Regions from separate parts of the Homo sapiens genome. Here all the other regions are linked to region 2. The links come from fine-mapping of genetic effects on gene expression. A gene starts in region 2. Each other region holds a variant in brackets. All regions are shown on one strand. Distances are from middle to middle. Region 1 has its middle 43 kb from the start of GOLM2. Region 2 holds the start of TRIM69 (tripartite motif containing 69). Region 3 has its middle 64 kb from the start of TRIM69.

Region 1 (8,185 bases), 490 kb before region 2:
CTCACTGCAACCTCCGTCTCCCCAGTTCGAGCAATTCTCCTGCCCAAGTCTCCCCAGTAACTGGGAGTACAAGCGCATGCCACCATGCCTGGCTAATTTTTCTACTTTTAGTAGAGACGGGGCTTCACCATGTTGGCCAGGCTGGTCTTGAACTCCTGATCTCAGATGATCCACCTGCCTCGGCCTCCCAAAGTGCGGGATTACAGGCGTGAGCCACCGTGCTGGGCCAGAAGCTCATCTCTTTTTTATTTTTATTTATTTATTTATTTTTTGAGACAGAGTCTGGCTTTGTTGCCCAGGCTGGAATGCAGTGGCGCGATCTCGGCTCACTGCAAGCTCCGCCTCCTGGGTCCACACCATTCTCCTGCCTCAGCCTCCCAAGTAGCTGGGACTACAGGCACCCACCACCACACCCGGCTTTTTTTTTTTTTTTGTATTTTTAGTAGAGGCGGGGTTTCACTGTGTTAGCCAGGATGGTCTCGATCTCCTGACCTCGTGATCCGCCAGCCTTGGCCTCCCAAAGTGCTGGGATTAGAGGCGTGAGCCACCACGCCCGGCCTAGCTCATCTTTTATACTTAGGATCTCAGGGTCTCCCAAGAGTTGAATGGTTTGCTCAGTCTGTGCTGAGTTTCTAGGTAAGAATGATCTGTGACTCTGGTTTTTTTTGTTGCTGTTGTTTGTTTGTTTTGAAAAAATTTATTTATTTATGGCTGGGTGCGGTGGCTCATGCCTGTAATCCCAGCACTTTGGGAGGCCAAGGTGGGTGGATCACGAGGTCAGGAGTTCAAGACCAGCCTGGCCAAGATGGTGAAACCCCGTCTCTACTAAAAATACAAAAATTAGCCGGGCTTGGTGGCCGGTGCCTGTAATCCCGGCTAATCGTGAGGTTGAAGCAGGGAATTGCTTGAACCTGGGAGGCGGAGGTTGCAGTGAGGTGAGATCGAGCCACTGCATTCCAGCCTGGGCGACAGAATGAGACTCTGTCTCAAAAAAAAAAGAAAAAGAAAAAATTTATTTACATAAGTTCATGGGGTATAAGTGTAATTTCAGTACATGCATAGACTTTGTAATGGTCAGGATTTTCGGGGTATTCACCACCCAAATAACATATATTGTACCCATTAAGTAATTTCTTTTTATTTTTCCCTAGGGTATAGATCCTGAACATTAAGTAATTTCTCATCCTTTACCCAACTGCCATGATCTGTGACTCTATTAACCCTCCATCGGCCTCCTACACATACATACCCCATAACTGGCTCCTATTCTCAGAATTCAATACTCTGCCCTGGGCAAAACTGTCCCTATGCCAAACACATATTTGCTTGCAAAAACATCACCCAAATGCTATCACAAATCCTCTGTTAGGCTGGGCTCTTTCCCAAATTGGCTCATTCTCATCTGCAGATCAGAATCTGAACCACCAGAGGCTACATGTCTTTCTTATAGAAGCTTGCAACAAAGGGCAGAGGGGTTGGGAATCATGACATAACAAAATAATTTGGGGCCAGGCACAGTGGCTCACACCTGTAATCCCAGCACTTTAGGAGGCTGAGGCAAGCAGACCACTTGAGTTCAGGAGTTTGAGACTAGCCTGGGTAACATAGTGAAACCTTGTCTCTACAAAAAATACAAAAATTAGCTGGGCATGGTGGCATACACCTGTGGTCCCAGCTACTCCGGAGGCTGAGGTGGGAGGATTGCTTGAGCCCACAGGTGGAGGTTGCAGTGAGCCGAGATTGTGTCATTGCCCTCCAGCCTGGACAACAGAGAGAGACCCTGTCTCAAAAACAAACAAACAAACACCCCCCCCGCAACAAAAAAATACCCAGTTTGGTTAGTTTGTGTTTATTTGATAGGTTTTCTTTAACCATGTGAGATGAGCTAAAGTAATTATTTCCATGGTATCTATTCCTTGAGTCTTGGGCATTCAAATATATGTGATGTACCATATAACTCCAGCTCTGTCCATCTGTAAACACAATGGCCAAGTCAGGTTTTCCAGGTAACTAGGCTGTACTCTTCTGCTGATTTGTAAATTTTAAGGCAGTTGGGCGTCTGGCTCCACTTAGTGCTGAAATGTCATAGTGCAGCCCGGTTACTGTTCTACAACCATAGAAATTAAGGAAAGGGTGAACCATAGGTCACTTTTTAAAAAATTATTTTTAGTGATAGGATCTCACTCTATTGCCCAGGCTGGAGTGCAGTGGCAGCCCTGAACTCCTGGGCTTAAGTGATCCTCCCGTCTTAGCTTCCCAAGTAGATAGGACTACAGGCGCGTGTCACCACACCCAGCTAAGTTTTGTATTTTTTGTAGAGATGGAATCTCACTATGTTACCCAGGCTGATCTTGAACTCTTGGCCTCAAGAGATCCTCTCGCCTCAGTCTCCCAAAGTGCTGGAATTATAGGCATGAACCACTACACCCAGCCTACAGGTCACTTTTCTGACTAAGACAGATATGTGACAATTACAGACAATCTGAGAAGTTGAAGATCAAATCCTATAGTGTTTGTGGTGAAAATAATAAAAACTAGGGGCAAAGCCTATGAGAACAGAACTGAGTTGAGAGAGAGGAGAATCTCTGGCCCTCTCTGATAAATCAGTTTGAGTTCCTGGTCTGTATTCTTTGCTTTCTAGATAGTATTACAGATCCTTTTAAAATAAACTGTCCTAATGCCACTGCAAGACTGTATGGAGGAGGGAAGAGGGCCCAGAGAGAGGCTAGAATCAGAAGTTGGAGGTATCATTGTGTTAGCCCAAATTTTGGGTTTACTATACACAAAAAATTTGATGATAAATTATTGGGCTAGTTTAAATTTGCTAAACCGTAGAAGGGGCCCTGTCTGTCATTAATAAACATTTTTTAAAGTACTAATGATATACTATGTTGAATTTCTTTCAAACATTGCACCGTAAAACACATTTGGTCTCCATTGCTGCTCTCTATCCATCAAGAATTGGGTCAAGTCAAACACTAAAATTTGAGTGCACAATGAGACATCAGACTCTCAAAAAGAGAGAGACAGAAATAAGGAAACAGGCCATTCAAAAAAGAGGAAAACCACTTCTCTGTTGATCTTGGTTTTCAATTCACTCTGTCCTTTCCTGGCTCCCACATAAATATCTCTGTAGTCACAATTTTTTTTTTTTTGAGATGGAGTCTCATTCTGTCACCCAGGCTGTAGTGCCGTGGCACAATCTTATCTCACTGTAACCTCCACCTCATGGGTTCAAGCAATTCTCTGCCTCAGCCTCCTAAGTAGCTGGGAGTACAGGCGCCCGCCACCATGCCCAGCTAATTTTTTTGTGTTTTCAGTAGAGACGGGGTTTCACCATCTTGGCCAGGTTGGTATTGAACTCCTGACCTCGTGATCCACCCGCCTCGGCCTCCCAAAGTGCTGGGATTACAGGCGTGAGCCACCA[C/T]GCCCAGCCTTGTATTCACATTATTTATTTATTTTTTATTTTTTTATTTTTTGAGATGGAGTCTCGCTCCATGGCCCAGGCTGGAGTGCAGTGGCGCGATCTTGGCTTACTGCAAGCTCCACCTCCCAGGTTCACGCCATTCTCCTGCCTCAGCCTCCCGAGTAGCTGGGACTACAGGCGCCTGCCACCACGCCTGGCAAATTTTTTGTATTTTTAGTAGAGACGGAGTTTCACTGTGTTAGCCAGGATGGTCTCGATCTCCTAACCTCATGATCCACCCACCTCGGCCTCCCAAACATTATTATACTCACTTAAATTTTAGATTCCAGTTTGATCTGAGGAAGTCTTTTTTTTTTTTCTTTTTTTGGAGACGGAGTCTCGTTCTGTCGCCCAGGCTGGAGTGCAGTGGCAGGATCTTGGTTCACTGCATCCTCCGCCTCCCGGGTTCAAGGGATTCTCCTGCCTCAGCCTCCCGAGTAGCTGGGACTACAGGTGGGTGCCACCAAGCCCGGCTAATTTTTTTGTGTGTATTTTTAGCAGAGACAGGGTTTCACTGTGACTCCATCTCCTGACCTCGTGATCCACCTGCCTCGACCTCCTAAAGTGCTGGGATTACAGGTGTGAGCCACTGCACCTGGCCGAGAAAATAATTTTTTTTTTTTTGAGATAGGATCTTACTCTGTTGCCCAGGCTGGAGTTTAGTAGTGTGGTCTCGGCTTACCGCAACTTCCGCCTCTGGGCTCAAGTAATCCTCCCACCTCAGCCTCCCAAGTAACTGGGACTATAGGTGCACAGCACCATGCCTGGCTAATTTTTGTATTTTTTGTAGAGACAGGGTTTTGCCTTGTTGCCCAGGCTAGTCTCGAACTCCTCGGGCTCAAGCGATCCTCTAGCTTCTGCTTCCTAAAGTGTTGGGATCACAGGCGTGAGCCACTGCGCCCAGCCTGAGAAAGTCATTTTAAAACTATTTTTTTCTTTAGCTCCAGGTTCCATAAATGATAGTGTAGGTATCATTCTCCTCAAGAGCAGATACTAAATCTGTTACTTCCCAGGTAGAGCTTGCAGCATGTATTCTTCGTATGTAATGGGTACTCCATGAATCTCCTGACTGATGAACAGGAGGATGACACCGAGCAAATCAGCAGACTCTTCAACATGAATTGCTTCTACATAATAGTTTGTGTTGATTTAGGAACCATTATATGGCTTTGGAGAAAAAAAAAAATTGATCCTGGCTTATTTTTATTTTAATAGAGACAAAACTTTCATTTTATGTCTGAAAGAGAGAGGTCACGCTTATTACCAGTATAATCTTTGGGTTTTCTGAATGAATGGAGTCATAGAAATGAGGCTGCATCTGAGTAAATACATTAATCTGGTTCCAGGCTTAGTGTTTTGGCTAGTACAATTTCAATTGTTCATTGTTATTCCTTAAATAGGCCTCTCTGTGTAATCACAAAAACAATTTCTTAACAACCATTATCAAATAATTAAAGGGATAGGATACAGCGCCGTTGTGCTATGATACAAAGATAACACTATTATATTTATATAAAACTTTATAGTTAACAAAGTACTTTTCCATCTTATGACACCTTAATCATCTAATCTTTGTGAGTCCATGATACAGATATTATTACTATTACCACCCATTTTATAGATGAGTAAACTGAGACTTAGAGAGGTCAGGTAACTTGTGCCAAAAAAAAAAAAAAAAAAACAAGCCCTGTCCACCTAAGTCCCATCCTTTCCCCCTTGTTGGTATATTTGTCATGCCTTGATCCTTCAGTGTAATTTGGGACAATTATAATGTTTGGATGATAAGAATAAGGAAAAAAAAGTTAAAATGTCAACTGAGGAAGAAAATTAAATAAAAATATAATTTTAATTAATTTAAAGAATTTAATTAATAAACAGCTTCCTAGATGACAGTGTCTACGTAGATTTATAAAAATGATCTAAAAAGAAAAGAAAGGGATGTAAGTGTATCGAAGGGACACAGAAGCTAACCTGAACAAGCTCCCAATAGCAAAAGCTGGAATAATTTGATCAACAAAACCATATAATGGGCTCGGCATGGTGGCAGCTCACGCCTATAATCCCAGCACTTTGGGAGGTCGAGGTGGGCAAATCACTTGAGGCCAGGAGTTTGAGACCAGCCTGGCCAACATGGAGAAACCTCATCTCTACTAGAAAAAAAAAATACAAAAATTAGCCAGGCATGGTGGCACATGCCTGTAATTCCAGCTACTCGGGAGGCTGAGATGTGAGAATCACTTGAACCCAGGAAGCAGAGGTTGCAGTAAGCCGAGATTGCACCACTGCACTCCAGCCTGGGCAACACAGCTAGACTCTTCTTAAAATGATAGATAGATAGATAGATAGATAGATAGATAGATAGATAGATGATAGATAGATAGGTAGATAGATAGATAGTATTATAAGCCAAAGAATATAATAAATATCTATGAGTCCACACAGATATAAATGAAGGACTAAATAAATAAATAGGAGAAAAGGAACAATTGTTCCTTGCAGAAGAATTCCAGTTAACAGTGTAGAAAAAATGAGGGAAACAGAAAATTACAGTTAGAAAACCACAATAGTGGCTGGGTGCGGTGGCTCATGCCTGTAATCCCAGCATTTTGGGAGGCCAAGGCCGGTGGGTCACCTGAGGTCAGGAGTTCGACACCAGCCTGGCCAACATGGTGAAGCCCATCTCTACTAAAAATACAAAAATTAGCCAGGCATCGTGGTGGCTGCCTGTAATCCCAGCTACTCGTGAGGCTGAGACAGGAGAATTGCTTGAACCCAGGAGGCAGAGGTTGCAGTGAGCTGAGGTTGCACCACTGTACTCCAGCCTGGGCAACATGAGCGAAACTCCATCTCAAAAAACAAAAACAAAAACAAAAAACCAGAAAACCACAATAGTAATTGCTACAGGCAAGATCAATTGAATGTTAAAATGAGTGGATGTAGTGAAATCTAAATAGAGTACAGAGTTTATAGTTTAATGTATCAATGTTGGTTTAATAGTTGTGACAAATGTACAGGGAAGATATTAACAATAGGGGAAAATGGCTACTATGTACTATTTTTGCAACTTTTCTGTAAATCTAAAACCATTCTAAAATGAAAAGTTTATTTAGGCCAGCCCAACTTTTCTCTAAATCTAAAACTATTCTCAAACAAAAAGTTTAATTAGGGTGGGTGTGGTGGCTTATACCTGTAATCCCAGTTCTGTGGGAGGCCGAGGCAGGAGAATCACTTGAGCCCAGGAGTTCAAGACCAGATTGGGTAACATAGCAAGACCCTGTCTCTAACAGAAAGAAAAGAAAAGCAATGAAAAAAGAAAAGAAAAGATCATTTAAAAGCTGGACACAGTGGCTCACACCTGTAATCCCAGCACTTTGGGAGGCTGAGGCGGGCGGATCACGAGGTCAAGAAATCGAGACCATCCTGGCCAACATGGTGAAACCCTGTCTCTACAAAAAATACAAAAATTAGCTGGGCGTTGTGGCATACGCCTGTAGTCCCAGCTACTTGGGAGGCTGAGGCAGGAGAACCGCTTGAACCTGGGAGGCGGAGGTTGCAGTGAGCCGAGATTGCACCACTGCACTTCAGCCTGGGTGACAGAGCAAGACTCCATCTCAAAAAAAAAAAGAAAGAAAAAGAAAAGTTGGTTTAAAAAATAAAAAACTAATGGGTAAAGTGTTAAGGAGAAACCAGATATTTGCATAGCCCCAAAATATCTTCTGAAAAATATTTGTTAGTTACAAAGAAAAAATAGTAACCTTACAGTGGAGAAACCTGGCAGATACCACCTTAGCCAAACGATCGAAGTTAATAACACCAGTAATTAGACATGTCAACAGCATGTACTCCTAATAGGATGCATTGAGAAGGGCATGTTCCCTCTGTGATATTTTTTCTCCCAAATTTATAAACTTAATCTAATAATGAGAAAACATCCAGACCAACCCAAATTGAGGAAAATTCTAGCAAATTCCTGATTGGTACTATTCAAAAGTGTCAAGGTAGTTAAAGACAAGGAAAGAATGAAGAACCATCAGAAATTGAAGGAAACTAGGGAGATGTGACAACCAAACGCAATGTGGGATCCTAGATCAGATCCTGGAACAGAAAAAGAGCGTTAGTGAAAATTGGTGATATTCAAATAAAGTCTATTTTGTAGTTAATAGTATTGTACCAATGATAATTTCCTAGTTTTGATAAATGTACTATGGTTCGGTAAGATGTTAACATGTGAAATAAAGGGTATATGGGAACAGTTTATTCTATCTTTGCAACTCTTCTGTAAGCCTAAAATTATTTCAGAAATTTAAAAAATTCGGCCAGATGCGGTGGCTCATGCCTGTAATCCCAGCACTTTGGGAGGCTGAGGCGGGTGGATCACCTGAGGTCAGGAGTTCGAGACCAGTCTTGCCAACATGGCGAAACCCCGTCTCTACTAAAAATACAAAAAATTAGCTGGGCATGATAGTGGGCACCTGTAATCCCAGCTACTTGGGAGGCTGAGAAGGAGAATTGCTTGAACCCAGGAGGCGGAGGTTGCAGTGAGCTGAGATCGCGCCATTGTACTCCAGTCTGGGTGACAGAGCGACACCCTGTCAAAAAAAAAATTCATAACAAATTTAAATTGTATATAAATGATACACAAATTAAGTCTGCTTCCTATGGCTGACCTGTGCCTTCTGGAAAGTCCTATTAGGTTTTAATACTTTGTGTAGTAAAACT
Region 2 (8,154 bases):
CAGTATATAAGAAACTCTTTGATTTCTCATATGCTCTGAGACTGCTTTTTGTTTCCTTTGGTTTTATGCTTCAGCTCTGGACTTCAGTTGCCAGAGTGTGCCAGATACTGGGGTCGTCCTTAAAGCAACTTTCCCTTTCTTATAGTCATCAATTTTTAGTTGGCCACATGTGGACATTCTGGACCACATAAATAAAGACAACACCCTAGAGATGGTGAAGTAAGTTGTAAACTAAAATCCTAAGCCCCCTAATTGACTGAATGGAACCCCTCTTGACCAAAGTGACCCCAGAAAAACCTTAAAACTGAGTTCCTGGCCATGACGGGATGGGAGGTCAGACACGCTTCATTATATCTCCGTCTCTTTTATGGTTTAGACACAACAACTGACCAGCATTAATGTCAAAATAAAGATCATAAGGCTGACAGAATAGACCCTTTGTGGCAATAACAAATTATTCGTAAGATCTAAGGTCATGCCAGGCAAGTGTTATGTCATGCACTCCTACACTTAAAGAATAAACTATGTTCTAACTGCCACAAGATTTTCTATTTATTTATTTATTTATTTATTTTTTGAGACGGAGTTCTGCCCTGTCAGTTTTTCTTTTTGTTTAGCAGCTAAACAAGCACCAGCTGAGATAAGCAATTTTTTTTTTTTTTTTTTTTTGAGTCAGAGTCTTGCTCTGTCGCCCAGGCTGCAGTGCAGTGGCCCGATCTCGGCTCACTGTGAGCTCTGTCTTCTGGGTTCATGCCATTCTCCTGCCTCAGCCTCCCAAGTAGCTGGGACTACAGGCACCCACCACCACGCCCCGCTAATTTTTTTGTATTTTTAGTAGAGATGGGGTTTCACCGTGTTAGCCATGATGGTCTCCATCTCCTGACCTTGTGACCTGCCTGCCTCGGCCCCCCAAAGGGCTGGGATTACAGGCGTGAGCCACCGCACCCAGCCACTTTCTCTTGATAAGAAGACCACTGACTATGGGCTGGTTCTGGCCAGTTTATAGAGGCTAAGCACCCTTGTTCCTTCCTGTCCTGAACAGGCATTTTGACTTATAGGGTCTAATTGTTATGCATTTAAGTGTTAAGTCTCCACCTTAGGCCTGGCGTGGTGGCTCACGCCTGTAATCCCAGCACTTTGGGAGGCTGAGGTGGGTGAATCACTTGAGGTCAGGAGTTTGAGACCAGCCTGGCCAACATGGCAAAACCCCGTCTCTACTAAAAATACAAAATTAGCTGAGTGTGGTGGTGCACGCCTGTAATCCCAGCTACTTGGGAGACTGAGGAAGGAGAATCATTTGAACCTCAGAGGCAGAGATTGCAGTGAGCTGAGATGGCGCCACTGCACTCCAGTCTGGGTGACAGAGTAAGACTCCGTCGCGAAAAACAAAAAACAAACAATAACAACAACAAAAAGAGTTAAGTCTCCACCTCAAAGTGAACATGGGTTGTATGTTACATGCATGTTTGTTCAATAAGCATGAGTCAGGATGACCTTCATAATTATTCATAGCTCCTCCTGTAACCTGTTGAATATGTATGTTTAGCCAACCTATTCAGCATCAAGTTCCTACCCCTGCTCCTCCTTTGAAGTGCCTGTCTCTGGTCTTTGCCAGAGATTGTACTTCCTGGCCTGTGGGATGGCCACCTTGCAGGCCTTTAACGCTTTATAAGAAATAAAGTCTCCTCTCCAAATTTATGGATGTTGTGAGTTCTGTGTTAACAAAGTAGAGAGAAGGAATTTGGGAGACTGACAACTTTGCAAACCAGAGCCACTATAGAAGTTTGGACTTTTACTTAAGAGAGAAATAAATTTCATTCTTGCTTAAGCAACTTTTATACTGGGTATATTAGTCAGGTTGACATACAAAATTAACCATCACTCTGGGTCTCGTTTACAGCAATGGAATTTTTTTATTTTTTATTTTTATTTTTTGAGACAAGGTCTTACTCTGTCAACCATGCTGGAGTGCAGGGATATGATCATGGCTTACTGCAGCCTCGACCTCCTGGGCGCAAATGATCCTCCCACCTCAGCCTCCTGAGTAGCTGGCACCACAGGCACGTGCCAACATGCCTGGCTAATTTTTAAATTTTTTGTAGGGACAGGGTCTCGCCATCTTGCCCAGGCTGGTCTTGAACTCCTGGGCTCAGGTGATCCTCCCACCTTGGCCCCCCAAAGTGCTGAGATTACAGGCATGAGCCACCATGCCTGGACACTGTTTTTAAATAGTGAAAAAAAGACTTGAAGTACTCTTTGTGAAGATTGAGACTTCTTGCTACATAGGATTTGGAATCACAGGCTTCTAGAGACAGAAGGGGGTCTTAGGAATTCACATTTTAAAGAAGGAGGAACTGACACCCATAGGAGTTAAATGTCTTAGCTAAGGCTATTCAGTGCTCTGGTGGTGAGAGACAAGGCTTCCATCTTCTAGGCCAGTACTCTTACCCCTAGGCTAAAGGTTCAAAAATGTGCAGGCGCTGGCTTTAGTAAAATCAGCTATACTAAGCATTGTCAAATGTTTTAGCCAACAACAAAAACAATCAAGATGAAACAAAATTACTTTTTTGACTAAGTGATCACCAGCATTTCATAGACATTTATCTGACAAAGGTTTTGATCTAACAAATGCCATGTATTGCCAAGGTGAGCAAGATACAGTACTACCTATCCTGTGGTTTGTTCACAACTTAGTGGAGGGGCAGACATGCAATCAAACAATTAGAATACACTCTGTTAAAGCCACGTGTACAAAGATCTAGGGTGCTATAGAAATGTGTAAAACTAGGCCAGGCGTGGTGTTGCTCACACCTGTAATCCTAGCACTTTGTGAGGCTGAGGTGGGAGGACAGCTTGAGCTCAGAAATTTGAGATCAGCCTAGGCAACATAGTGAGACCCTGTCAGAAAGAAAAGAAAAAAGAAAAGAAAAGAAGGAAAGAAAGAGAAAGAGAAAGAAAGGGAGAAAGAAAGAAAGAGAGCAAGAGAGAAAGAAAGAGGAAAAAGAAAGGAAGAAAGAGAAAGAAACAGAGAGAGAAAGAAAGGGAGAAAGAAAACAGAAAGAGAGAGAAAGAAAGAAAGAGAAAGAAAAAAAGAAAGAGGAAAGAAGGAAGGAAGGAAGGAAGGAAGGAAAGAAGGAAGGAAGGAAGGAAGGAAGGAAGGAAGGAAGGAAGGGAGTAAAGCTGTGTTTCTCAACTGGGGAGTGATTCCAACCCCTGCCCCCAGGAGACATTTGGCAATGACTGGAGACATTTTTGTTATGACTGGGTTTGGTGGGGGGGGGGTGGCTACAGGCATCTAGTGTGTAAACGCCAGGGACACTGCTAAATATCCTAAAATTCACAGGACAGCCCCTCTAACGTAAGACTTAGCAGGCCCAAAATATCAATAGGGCTGAGGTTGGTAACCTCTGGTATAGAGCCAGCAAAATATCTTCTACAAGAGACAGGGAAGTGGGTAAAGCTTGGTTTGGGGATGAGGGGGTGGTTAGGGAAGAGTTTAGTAAAGAGATAATGACGGGGGTGTGGGGGAAGGGAAACTCCCATCCGAAGGGACAACATATACAAAGCTGCAGAAGCGTGACATATTTGGGCGATCCCAAACACTGGGGAAAGAGCTGTGGTCATTAAGTCTGGACAGCTAGGCAGGAGCTAGACGTGCAAGAAATCATATTGAGTTAGAGGAACTACTGTAAGAAAAACTGTTTGGCTCTGTGGTGGCTCTTTATAAGTCACTCAGGAGCACAGTGTTGGTACATCTCTCTGCGAGCTAAAACTGCTGAAGAAAGCTGTATGAAATGAAGCTTTTTTCATCCTGCTTTCTTAGGGCCTGGTGTTTCCCAGGCCTGTGTTACTGTCTCAGAGATAAAATCAGGGCTGCTTCATTGGAATATGAGAGGTGAACTAGCTCTCTATTAAAGCCACTCAGCTGGTGTCTTGATGGTGTGATGGGATCATGAACAGGGGTGAGGTGGTTATTTTTCATGAGTTAGGCTTAATATAGGCTGCTGCTGACGTGTATTTCCTCTTTCATAGAGCATCCTTAGTCCAGAAATGGGGAGCTATGAACCTTAAGATTAGACCACTAACTCGAATCTAAATGAGCTGCCCTTGTCTCCTACAAAAGAAAAGTTGGGCAGGTAGGGTATTCTAATGAGGGTTTCTCTTTCTCTTAAGCAAATGATGATCAAAGTTAACTGACAAACTGTCACGGAATCTGCCAGACCTCACTCTGGCCTTGCTGCTTCTCTCCAGCTCCTGAACTTTTCTTTCTTCCATCATGCTCTGAGCCCATTCCTTGAAAACTAAAAGGTCCCTGACTCCCAGTCTGCAGCCATCCTGGGCCTGCTGAGCTCTGATTCAAGTGCCTGCCTCTGCCCCTTGGTGGGCTGAAGCTTCATGGAGGTGAGTGACCCTTTTTTTTTTTAACTTAGCAGGGCTTCTAGGAATAGTGTGGAAAACAGGATCATAGAAGAGGATATGGATTTAGGAGCACAAAAGGAAATTCATGAAGGGAAGTATTTAACTTGTGACAGCTGGTAGCTACTATACTCTCTCCAAGCCTTGGAATAACTGATAATTTATACTAGAGAAGCTGGTAGGAAAGTAATGAAATCCACCAAAACATTTTGAGAAAAAATAAACTATATACTATATACAATTTACTTTCATTATCAATGTAATCATTTTATTTTAGATTTAAAAATTATTATGTATAACTTGGTTTGCTTACAATACCTTCACATTTGATTATTTTATATTTAAGGCAGAGTTGATACTTAGATAGTAAACATTTTTAATTGAATTCTTCCTTTAAGACCTCTTCAGAGCTAAAATAAAGGAAGTTATGTTCTTCTGAACTTAGTGTTTTCCTGATTGTCAAACAAAAGAAAATGGTTATTTACTACATGAAAGCTTGAAAAACTCACTAAGGGTTTTTCAGGGGCCCTTGAATCCTGAGTTATCATCCATTTCCACTAGTTTCCACTTCTTATAAAGTTTAATTTCATTATATTAATCATTAAGATCAGTTTCTAATTTCCTCTATCATAGGACCTTTAGGTTTGCTGCTACTCATCTCTGTGCTTAGCTATTGAAGCAAACAGGGCTATAAGCATTTTGTTTATAATTTCTAGGGCAAAAATAAACACTATTGCCTAAACCTACTATATTCTTATTACTTTAAGGCCAAGTCAGTGAAAATAGACACTTTTCCATAATAGTAAAAAAATTGTTTGTGTGATAGTGAGTTTCCCATTACTTCAGATGTTCAGGCAGAGGTTGGAAAGGAGTGAATTAAATGGCTTAAAATTTCTTTCAACTCTGGGAAGCTCCAAGAAGTCAGAAAGTTCAGAATCTTGCCTTCTTATGTGCAAATGGCTTGACTCGTGAAGCAGGAGTGTGTCTTGCTCTTAGGTTTAAGCTGGCTGTGCTATATAGTTTGTCTCTGTGGATGAACTGTATTTTTCTGCTCTCAAAGTTAATTCTTCATAAAAACTGCCCATCAAAGTTTAAAAATTACTTTGAAGGAATAAAGGTTGAAAAGCAACAAATGAACTCTCCTTAGATATCTTAACTATGATTTCAAAAATTTACAACACAAAACTTCTCAGGAAAAAAAAATCTCTGGTAAAAATTAAGGATTTCTTATGCAAGCTTCCATGGACTTCATAGCTCTTTGCCTTTTCTCTGCTCTTTGAGAATGTGCACAGTGAACTGAAGGAGGAAGATACATACTTTCTTTCTTTCTTTTTTTTTTTTTTTTTTTTTTAGGACAGAGTCTCACTCTCTTGCTCAGGCTGGAGTGCAGTGGCACCATCTCAGCTCACTGCAACCTCCGCTTCCAGGGTTCAAGTGATTCTCATGCCTCAGCATCCCAAATAGCTGGGACTGCAGGGACGCACCACCACGCCTGGCTAATTTTTGTATTATTATTTTTTTTTTTAGTAGAGATGAGGTCTCACCATGTTACCCAGGCTTGTCTCCAACTCCTGACCTCAGGTGATCCTCCTGCCTCAGCCTCCCAAAGTGAGGCTAAGATTACAGGCCTGGGCCATCGTGACCTGCTGATGTGCTTTCTTATAAAGTGATTCCTGCCAGCCAGGGCTTTATAAGGATGAATATCAATTCCTGACTCGAGTTTCTCTCTCTCTGCCTTAAGGTTAGACTTCTTCCCCTAAAAGGGGCTGGCAGTAGATGTGTTTCCTAAAAGATTTCCAGGTCCAGAAATTTTAGACTCTCATTTGGTTTCCAATTCTATAGCTCCCTCTAGAGCAGTAGGAAGTTATTGCAGATATTTTGCTTCACAAATTTGATCCATTTAATAAATTCAATTCCACAAAACATATTGATGGGCTCTCTGCTGACTCAGTGGTTAATAGGCTTTGGGGTCAAATAAAGAGTTCAAATCTGAGACCCACTACTTAATAATTGTGACTCTGGGAAGATACTTGAAGCAATCTGAGCTTCAGTTTCCTTAAAATATGTAGTAATAATACGTATTTCATAGGGTTGTTCTGAGATTAAATGAAATAATGTATGTAAATCCTCTTCCACAGTGAATGCTCAGTAAATATTAGCTAATATAATTAATCCCTTGTTTTACAGAAAAGGATATATTATTGAAAGTCAGGGGAATTGGCAAACCCTCAGCTAGCAAGATGAATTAACCATATAAAACCAGTCAATCATATAATATCAATAATTAATAACATTAAATATATTTTCATATCATATAACTCACCCTTTTGAAGTTTACAATTCAGTGATTTATAGCATATTCACAAAGTTGTACAATTATCACCACTATCTAATTCCAGAACATTTTCATTATCCCCAAAAGAAATTCCATACCCATTATCAGTCACTTCCCGTTCCTCTTTGCCCTGCCTTGGTAACCGCTATATATTTTAAACATACTTTAAAAACACACGGAGGGGGCAGCCAAGATGGCTGAATAGGAACAGCTCTGGTCTACAGCTCCCAGCGTGAGCGATGCAGAAGACGGGTGATTTCTGCATTTCCATCTGAGGTACCAGTTTCATCTCACTAGGGAGTGCCAGACAGTGGGCGCAGGACAGTGGGTGCAGCGCACCGTGCGTGAGCCGAAGCAGGGCGAGGCATTGCCTCACTCGGGAAGCGCAAGGGGTCAGGGAGGTCCCTTTCCTAGTCAAAGAAAGGGGTGACAGACGGCACCTGGAAAATTGGGTCACTCCCACCCTAATACTGTGCTTTTCCGACGGGCTTAAAGAACGGTGCACCAGGAGATTATATCCTGCACCTGGCTCGGAGGGCCCTACGCCCATGGAGTCTCGCTGATTGCTAGCACAGCAGTCTGAGATCAAACTGCAAGGCGGCAGCGAGGCTGTGGGAGGGGCGCCCACCATTGCCCAGGCTTGCTTAGGTAAACAAAGCAGCCGGGAAGCTCGAACTGGGTGGAGCCCACCACAGCTCAAGGAGGCCTGCCTGCCTCTGTAGGCTCCACCTCTGGGGGCAGGGCACAGACAAACAAAAAGACATCAGTAACCTCTGCAGACTTAAATGTCCCTGTCTGACAGCTTTGAAGAGAGCAGTGGTTCTCCCAGCACGCAGCTGGAGATCTGAGAATGGGCAGACTGCCTCCTCAAGTGGGTCCCTGACCCCTGACCCCCTAGCAGCCTAACTGGGAGGCACCCCCAAGTAGGGGCAGACTGACACCTCACATGGCCGGGTACTCCTCTGAGACAAAACTTCCAGAGGAATGATCGACAGCAGCATTCGCGGTTCACGAAAATCCACTGTTCTGCAGCCACCGCTGCTGATACCCAGGCAAACAGGGTCTGGAGTGGACCTCTAGCAAACTCCAATAGACCTGCAGCTGAGGGTCCTGTCTGTTAGAAGGAAAACTAACAAACAGAAAGGACATCCATACCAAAAACCCATCTGTACATCACCATCGTCAAAGACCAAAAGTAGATAAAACCGCAAAGATGGGGAAAAAACAGAGCAGGAAAACTGGAAACTCTAAAAAGCAGAGCGCCTCTCTTCCTCCAAAGGAACGCAGTTCCTCACCAGCAACAAAACAAAGCTGGATGGAGAATGACTTTGACAAGTTGAGAGAAGAAGGCTTCAGATGATCCAACTACTCCGAGCTACAGGAGGAAATTCAAACCAAAGGCA
Region 3 (8,185 bases), 64 kb after region 2:
CTGGCCATGATCATACATCTGTACCCATGGCCAGGATCCAATGGGCCTCTCAATTTATCCTTAACTTGCTTATTTGCAATTTTATCCATCAAGTGATGCCACATGAGGAATTTAAATATCTGGACTAAGTAGGAGAGGTTATTGTTTGCTAAAGCACCACTGTCCCAAGCTCAAGAATGTTATGCTATTGGCATTTATAAGCCCAGTTCTAGGCATCATTATCTCAGTGGCCTTGAGACATTACCAGTCTATCTCAGAGATTCAGACTTGTCTCCTGATTGTATCTCTATCTCTTTCTCACTTCTTGGATGATTTACAATTACTTTCTCTCTGTCTGTTCCAGCACAACACTAACAAGTAAGGGCTCAGCTGACTTAGTCACACTTGAAGTCCATGAGAGGACTACAAGCCATTGATATCCAGTGCGTTCTGGATCAAGTTTTTGTTCCTTTTTTCATTTACCTGGGTGCTAGTCAAGCCTGAGGCTTAACTAATATGGGACCAAATTAAATGCTAAATGAATAAATTAATGAGCAAGGCTTAGATCTCAGTCAGACCTTGCAAGAAGGAAAGAGAGACCATCCATTAAGTTGAAGTTTAACAAATTTTAAGTTTGTTGTAAAATTTTTACTCTGATATTTGAAGAAGTAAGAGATTCATTCTTGGCACATACCTTCAGTTGTTTCTGTGAGGTTGGTAAATCCATTTTCCATGTTGTTATTATAACAGATCTGAGGACATTAATTGATATGTTTCACTAGAATGTGAGTTCTGATAAGGATGTCAGAGATGAATACAACACATTCTCCTGCAAATGCACTTTGGAAATGCCTTGTCTCACATATGGTATAAATTCTAATTGATATCTTTCACCAAGTATTCATTTACACCATGCTGTTTATGGCAGAAATTCCCTATATACTATAACTGTTGTCCAAATATAAGACTTCTCATGATAAATTTCTCTTGGCTTTGAATGTCAGGGGAAGTTTATGTCTTCTACACAACTGGTCTATGTGTTTTCGTCTGACAATAATAACTAGACAAACCATTGGATTTCCCTTTTTCTGTCTTGTCTTTTAAGAATTTCAAAGTTTGAGCATTAGGCTCCATTTCATTACCCCTCACTCCAGACTCCTAGTATATATTCCTACTGCTGACACTGCATGATTTCTGATCTTCATTTAGCTTTATTTCAGCTTTTCCATTGTTTTGAGCTTTACACTGAGGTTTGGAGAAGTTTGAGGGATGCCTCCATGAGAAACAGGAAGAATATATATTGTTAGCAAAGAGATACGTAACTTATTGCTTGAAGAGATTTGACAGTCATGTAGACTTGAACTAAAATATCAGCTTCAGTACTTGTTAAAAGTGTGAACCTGACTGAGCAAATTGCTTAAATTATCTGAACTTTAGTTTCTAAGAATAATAAAATTTTGTGAGAATTAAATAAGATAATGCATAGAGAATGCTTAGAATCCTATCCAGCACCTTGTATGTGCTTAATAAATGATATTTCTACGTAACAAATAAAAGCCATTGAGAGACAACTTTAATTTATACAAATAATTAAACAAGGAGTGTTTCTTGAATATAATAGAGTAGCTAAAGGTTCAGACTTAGAAATCACGTTATGTGGGTTCAAACCCCTACTCCATTATTTTCTATCTGTAACCTTAGGCGAGTTTTATTATGCCTTCATTTCCTTATATTAAATGACAATAAAAACAAAATCTACCTCATAGGGTTATTTTAAGGAGGCAACACAGTATAGATGCTTAAAAGTTTCCAGCACACAAGCATGTAATAAATGCTATTACTGCTTTAACTAGTATTATTATTAGTTGACTCTAGATTCAAACTAAATTTTTTAGAGATTTCTACTCCATTTTGGCCTCAAGAAAAACTGAATATAATAAATAATGAAAACTGAATTGGCCTGGGAATACAAAGATATTTTTTCTGGGTTTATTTTCACTTCCACACTGGGAGCTTTATTGATAACTTTAGAGATAAACATTTATGTGGAAGTAAATACACAACACAAGCCCAGAAAGGTACACACTGTAACTTTTTTATAACAGAAAGGAATTGTTGGGGATAATGTATTTCTCTCATGCTTCTGAGTCAAAAACCAAGCAAACTGAAATAGCCCAACACCATCATGATCGATTCCTTGTTTTTATTTCATTTTACTCTTTGCAATATGTTTTCATATTTAGTCATATCTCTTTTGATCCTCAAAGTGAGCCAAATAAGAGGACAGGACAGGTAGTTATTATCAATGATAAAGTGAAGAGTTGAGTGAAGTGACTACTCAGGGCCACCCAGTTGGCAAGTGACTGAGCTGGATTCAAAACCAGCTGTCATCCTTTTTCCTCACACTACACACATTGCCCTAAGTCAGACTTCCACACTGGAACTGTTTAATCTGTTAAAAAAAAAAAAAAGAAAAGAAAAAGAAAAGAAAAAGCTGATTCTGCAGTGACCACTGAGACATCTAAACAGAAGCCTCACCTTACCCCCCCTCAGGAGACAGGGCCATTGGACGGTCAGAGTGCCCCTTTCCTGTTGTTTCTTGTGCATCTGGATTCAGCACACAGCCCTGTCATCCCCCAGCTGTCCACTAAGCACCGCCATCAGCAATAAAGGAGTTACCACTTAATCTCTGGTACTTAAAATGGGAAATTGAAGCATATAATCACAGGATTAGAAACAGCTGAATCTAGGGACGCTGAAAAACCCTTTAGAACAAGTTGCCAAATAGTTTTGCTCTTTGCCAAAATATCTTTTCTCTTTATTTAACCCTTTCTGAGTTATAAGAGAAATGCAATTACAACCATGATATTCTCTACTAAAATGAACAGCTTCTGCTGTCTAAGAAAAAAAGGAAAGATTCAAAAATATACCTGTGACTATAATAGCTCTTGGGAGGAGGAAAAGCCCTCTTGAGTCATCCAGAGTCAGGCCACTTGGAAATTGACTATACATGTAGGTTGGGAACTAGGCTGGTTATTAAGCTACTGTATCTTAGCACCACCCACTCACCTGTTACTCTGTTACATGATTTTGAGGCTGGACTCCACAAATAAAATTTATCCTTTGCCATCTGGTTTCCTGTTAGGCTCTGCCAATAAAGGGTATTAGAGGAAGACTGCAAACCTAGAGGATGGCAAAGGGATTTGCCCCTTGCTCTTTGCTTTCTGTGTCTGTCAACATCCCCTCAGCAATAGTTCTTCACCCTAGCAGCAGCATTTGGGTCTAGGTCTTTTTTTTTTTTTTTCTAATTTCCAGAATCAGCCTCATTGGAGTCCCTGCAGAGACACCAGCACCAGCCAGGTGGCACCTCCTGCTCCGTGGTCTTGTTCTCAACTTTATGGGGCTCTTCATCCAAGCTTCTAGGTTCAACTAATCCACTCTACCCTTTGCTCCCCTGTTCTAACGGTGGAAGATATTTCCTGTAGTTTGCATATCTTTCTGGAGTTATAGTTTTCTAAATACCTGTTTAGCAATTCGATTCCCTATATTAAATTATCCCTGTTAAAATAACTGGAATGGTTTCTGTTTTCCTGATTGGACCTTGATGGATACAGGATCTAACTTTATTTGTATTTCAGATATAGGTTGGAATGGTCACTTTCCCAAAACTTTTATTAATTTATTAATCCAAGAGAACATATGATATGTCTGGCATTCTGCTGAGGACTGGGAAAAGAAATATAAGTGTCTTCTACTAATTTAGTCCAACAAACCATGAGAATACCCAGATAAACCCTATGCAATCTGAAGTGCTAAAAGAGATATATAAAAATTGCTGTGGATTTTTTAAAAAGAAAGGAGTATGCTATAACAAAAGTATCTTAGAAAAAAAATTTTTTTGAAACAAAAAAATGGGCTGGGTGCGGTGACTTACGCCTGTAATCCCAGCACTTTGGGAGGCCAAGGCAGGTGGATCACAAGGTCAGGAGATCGAGACCATCCTGACTAACATGGTAAAACCTCGCCTCTACTAAAAAATACAAAAAATTAGCTGGGCGTGGTGGCGGGC[G/A]CCTGTAGTCCCAGCTACTCGGGAGGCTGAGGCGGGAGAATGGCGTGAACCCGGGAGGCGGAGCTTGCAGCGAGCCGAGATTGTGCCACTGCACTGCAGCCTGGGCGACAGAGCGAGATTCCATCTAAAAAAATAATAATAATAATAATAAAATAAATAAATAAAAAAGGAACAATTAATTTTGTTAAGGAGGATTCAAAGACAGATAAATAAAAGAACCATACTGAAAAGATTGAAAATGAAGGTTTTAACATAGACACAGGGAAGGGAACAACACACACTGGGGCCTGTGGGGGAGAGGGAAGGGGGAGAGAGAGCATTAGGAAAAATAGCTAATATATGTTGGGTTTAATACGTAGGTGATGGGTTGATAGGTGCAGCAGACCACCATGGTCCACGTTTACCTATGTCACAAAACTGCACATCCTGCACATGTACCCTGGAACTTAAAATTTTAAAAAAGAGAGAGAGAATAAAAGAAAAATAAAAAAAGAAAAGAAAATGAAGGTTTTAAAGGGCCACGTGAATTTACTGTTTTTTCATTCTCCGCAAATTATCACAAGGACAAAAAAACCAAACACCGCATGTTTTCACTCATAGGTGGGAATTGAACAATCAGAACACATGGACACAGGAAGGGGAACATCACACACCGGGGCCCGTTGTGGGATGGGGGGAGTGGGGAGGGATAGATAGCATTAAGAGATACACCTAATGCTAAATGACGAGTTAATGGGTGCAGCACACCAACATGGCACATGTATACATATGTAACAAACCTGCACGTTGTGCACATGTACCCTAAAACCTGAAGTATAATTAAAAAACAAGACAAAACTGTAGTTGTTTTTAGTTTAAAATAGTTTAAAAACAACTATTAGCACTCTCAATTTTCATTAATTATATCCATAACTTAAAAACTATTAAACCAATCTGGCCTGTTGAATCTCTGCGTAATTCTTCCAGCCATTCAGATTACATTAATTTGTAATATACCACCTTCCACAGGAGTTGTATTTCATATTTCATAACCCTCCCCCACAAACACGCACACAAATGGTAAATTTGTTAACTCTCTTTTCAAGGAACACACACTCTTACAACATGGATTACGCAACTATAGAGCAAGCCCATGAAACCTAAAGTACATTCCATGATACGTTACTTCACTGGGGGCATTAGTAGGTAGTCCATGAATGAAGGGTACAATATATAAATAACTTTGAGAAATGCTGGACTGAGCAGACAGATTTACTTGCTGCAGGAATTTTCAAAGCTTTTAATATCCTAATATGTTTGTGAATCCCAAAGACAACGTTACAAATTGCAGCCAGCTCTCCAGATCACATTTGCTTCATCTTTCACTTATCCATCATATCCAATCAGATATTTAAGTTCCCTCTAGTTTCTTCCTCCTCCTTCCTTCTTCCCCACTGTGACCATCCAAGACTTTGTCCTGGTCTTTTTTATCTACCACCCTCCTACCTGACCACCTTGCCTTACTGCTCATCCCCCAGGTCAGTCTTCCACAACAGTCAGACTTCCACTGCAATCAGAAAACTGCAGCCCACAGACCAATGCCAAACAGTTTATTCATAGACCAATGCCTGTTTATTCATAGTTGATAAGCTAAGAATAGTTTTACATGGTTATGTTTTAAACAGTTATATAAGCACCTACATAATATCATTTTGTGTCTTTTGCAAAGCCTAAAGTATGTACTATCTGGCCCTTTTAGAGAAAGTTGCTGACTCCTGCTTGACACCCCTGTCAGATGCATTTATCCTAAATCACCTGTACTTTTTATGGTTTCTTATCACAAGTTATAATGGCTCCTGCTTGTTTAGCCTCAATGACAGAAAACCATGAACAAGGAAAACCCTCTCACCAAGCAGGGAAGTGGGGTCCTTCTTTTAGGTTTTGGCAAAGAGAAAAATTGTTGTCATCTGCTGACTCCAGTGCAAAATCAGGGAACACTAGAAGTATAGAAAGTCCCTTTCTGGGGATACAAAAATGTGCATGCACCAGAGAGTGGTAAACAGAAAGAATGACCAATTTTGTCAAAGCAGAATTACCAAACAGGAAGCAGAAGGTACAGGCAGTGATGCACTGACAAATGTCTCACAACTGGCTTTCCACTGAGATGCAGGAAAGATTTTAATTAGAGGTGAGAAGCCTTGATGTGTATCATGTGCCAATTTCCATGGTGTAAATGCTCCCACCACGCTTGTTTCAAGTTACAAATAAGACATCATGGAACAGAGTTGGGAAGAGACACACTCAATGGGCTTTCACCCTAATACAGCAGGAACAGAGCAGGAACCAAAGCAGGACCAAAAGGAGCAGAGTCCTGTTTCTCCGGGCTTCTGTACCCTGATCACTCAGGAGAAAGGCAAGCCACCCAGGATAGTGGTTAGAAATCAAGTCGACAGCTGATCCTTGACACTAGCCCGAAGTTTGGGAAAGTATTTCATCTGCTCCCTTTGTGATATGACTTTTTTTCCTGGGGGCTGGGGAGGTCCACCTTGCTCCTATGCTGAAATTCCTTCCGCTTCTTTCACAATGAGGAAAGCTCTTGAGAAGGAAAGCAAGGAAATACACACTTATCCACCCCATAGGCCAAATGTCTGATGTCAGACCCTTTCCTCGGGTCATGTTTGGTTAGGAAGACGTAAAAAAATTTGAAAACAGTATATAAGAGGAGGCATCAGAAAGAGAAAATTAGAAGAAAGGGAATTAACTACTATCAAGTGTTTGTTTTTTCATTAAGCAAGAGGTTCAGGGTTCCATCAACTTGGAAGGAATAAAATTCATCTTTATTTTCACTCTTTAACAAGTAGTTGGCATTTTCTTCATTTACAAATGTAGGTTATAAACCCACAATGTGATTTTGCCAACAATAGAAATGAGATATTTTCATGTACAGTGTTACAGTTTGGCAGGTAAATCAAAATATCATTTATGTGCTTCTTTACCTCAAAATTATCGTAGTTATCAGACCCTCAGCTTAATCTCTTAATTTTTAATACATGAACAAAGAAACATATTACATTCTAACACACATTTTAAAAAAACATTTTGATAAATGTATTATAGTGTTACCTTTGTAATTCCACATATTTTGTTTTATGAGTTTCAAGTACTTGTTCTAGGAGCCCATAGCCTTCACTAGACTGCCAACAAATATGGTCAATAAAAGATTGAAATCCCCATGAAAGACATTTTAAATATGTTACTTTAACCATCACAATGATGCTATAAGTTTTCTTGTTCTCCTTTCACTGGTGGAAAAAAAAATTGAGTGTTAAAGAAGTTAAATGACGACCCCAAGCTTATTCTGCCATTACATGGCAGGGCCAGTAATTGAACTCCAATTGGCTTGATGCTCTATTGCTCTTCCAGGCCCTTCACCCTTCTGATTGCTCCACTGGTAAAGGGAAGGAGGATTTGCTCAATGGTCTTGATCAGGCCCCAAGTCTCTGAAAAGGTCTTTTGGTTGCTACAAAGTCAAGAGCCCCAGAAAGCAGGCCAGCAGGATGTTAACAGAATGGGCAGAAAAGTAGACTTTCAGTGCTACCATTATTCCTCCTGGAGTGGCTCAGCTAAATTAAGCCAGGCCTCAGTGACCCTGTCCTCCAGATGTGCTACAGGGACCTAGCCTATGTGCAAAGGCCTGGAGGGTGTATGCATCTCCATTATACAGACAGGTCCCATGGGTTTCGTTGCATACCTCAGCTCAGTGCCAGGGAGCAGGAACACTGTGAGAAGGAGGACTTCCAGGAGAAAAGATGGGGAGGAAATAAATTCTCTCTGAGCTTGTGCCTCTGCCCTGCAGAGTGACTTTACTTCTGTCCAACTATCATCTATTGGGTCCTCTATGCCAATATGGTGTGAAATAGTATTGAGATTCAAAAACAAACAAGTTATAGTTTCTACCAACAGGAGCTCATGACTTAGGGGCAGTTACATGTCCTGTTAGGTACTTCCAGGATTCTTTGATGCTGATTCAGAAATCCCAGGGGAAGGCAGAGATGAAAACAATCTCAGGACAGTGAGATAAGAGGAACAATACATGGAAGTGCAACGAGGATGACAAAGAAGGATTTATACTGGTTACTTAGGAAAACAACAGAAGTG

Evidence for each region. PIP is the estimated chance that this variant, and not a neighbour inherited with it, causes the effect.
Region 1: its variant is fine-mapped to the expression of TRIM69 in coronary artery (GTEx, PIP 0.94).
Region 3: its variant is fine-mapped to the expression of TRIM69 in whole blood (INTERVAL, PIP above 0.99).

What each region holds. Positions count from the first base shown.
Region 1 is chr15:44,241,958-44,250,142 of GRCh38, forward strand. No RefSeq gene overlaps it. Among named protein-coding and RNA genes, the nearest start is that of GOLM2, 43 kb to the right of the region's middle. The variant C/T (reference allele first, on the strand shown) is at 3,428.
Region 2 is chr15:44,732,310-44,740,463 of GRCh38, forward strand. TRIM69 (tripartite motif containing 69) reads left to right here and starts at 4,219. Exons shown (of 7, transcript NM_182985.5): 1 at 4,219-4,401. The coding sequence starts at 4,396. It also overlaps the pseudogene RNF4BP.
Region 3 is chr15:44,796,399-44,804,583 of GRCh38, forward strand. No RefSeq gene overlaps it. Among named protein-coding and RNA genes, the nearest start is that of TRIM69, 64 kb to the left of the region's middle. The variant G/A (reference allele first, on the strand shown) is at 4,049.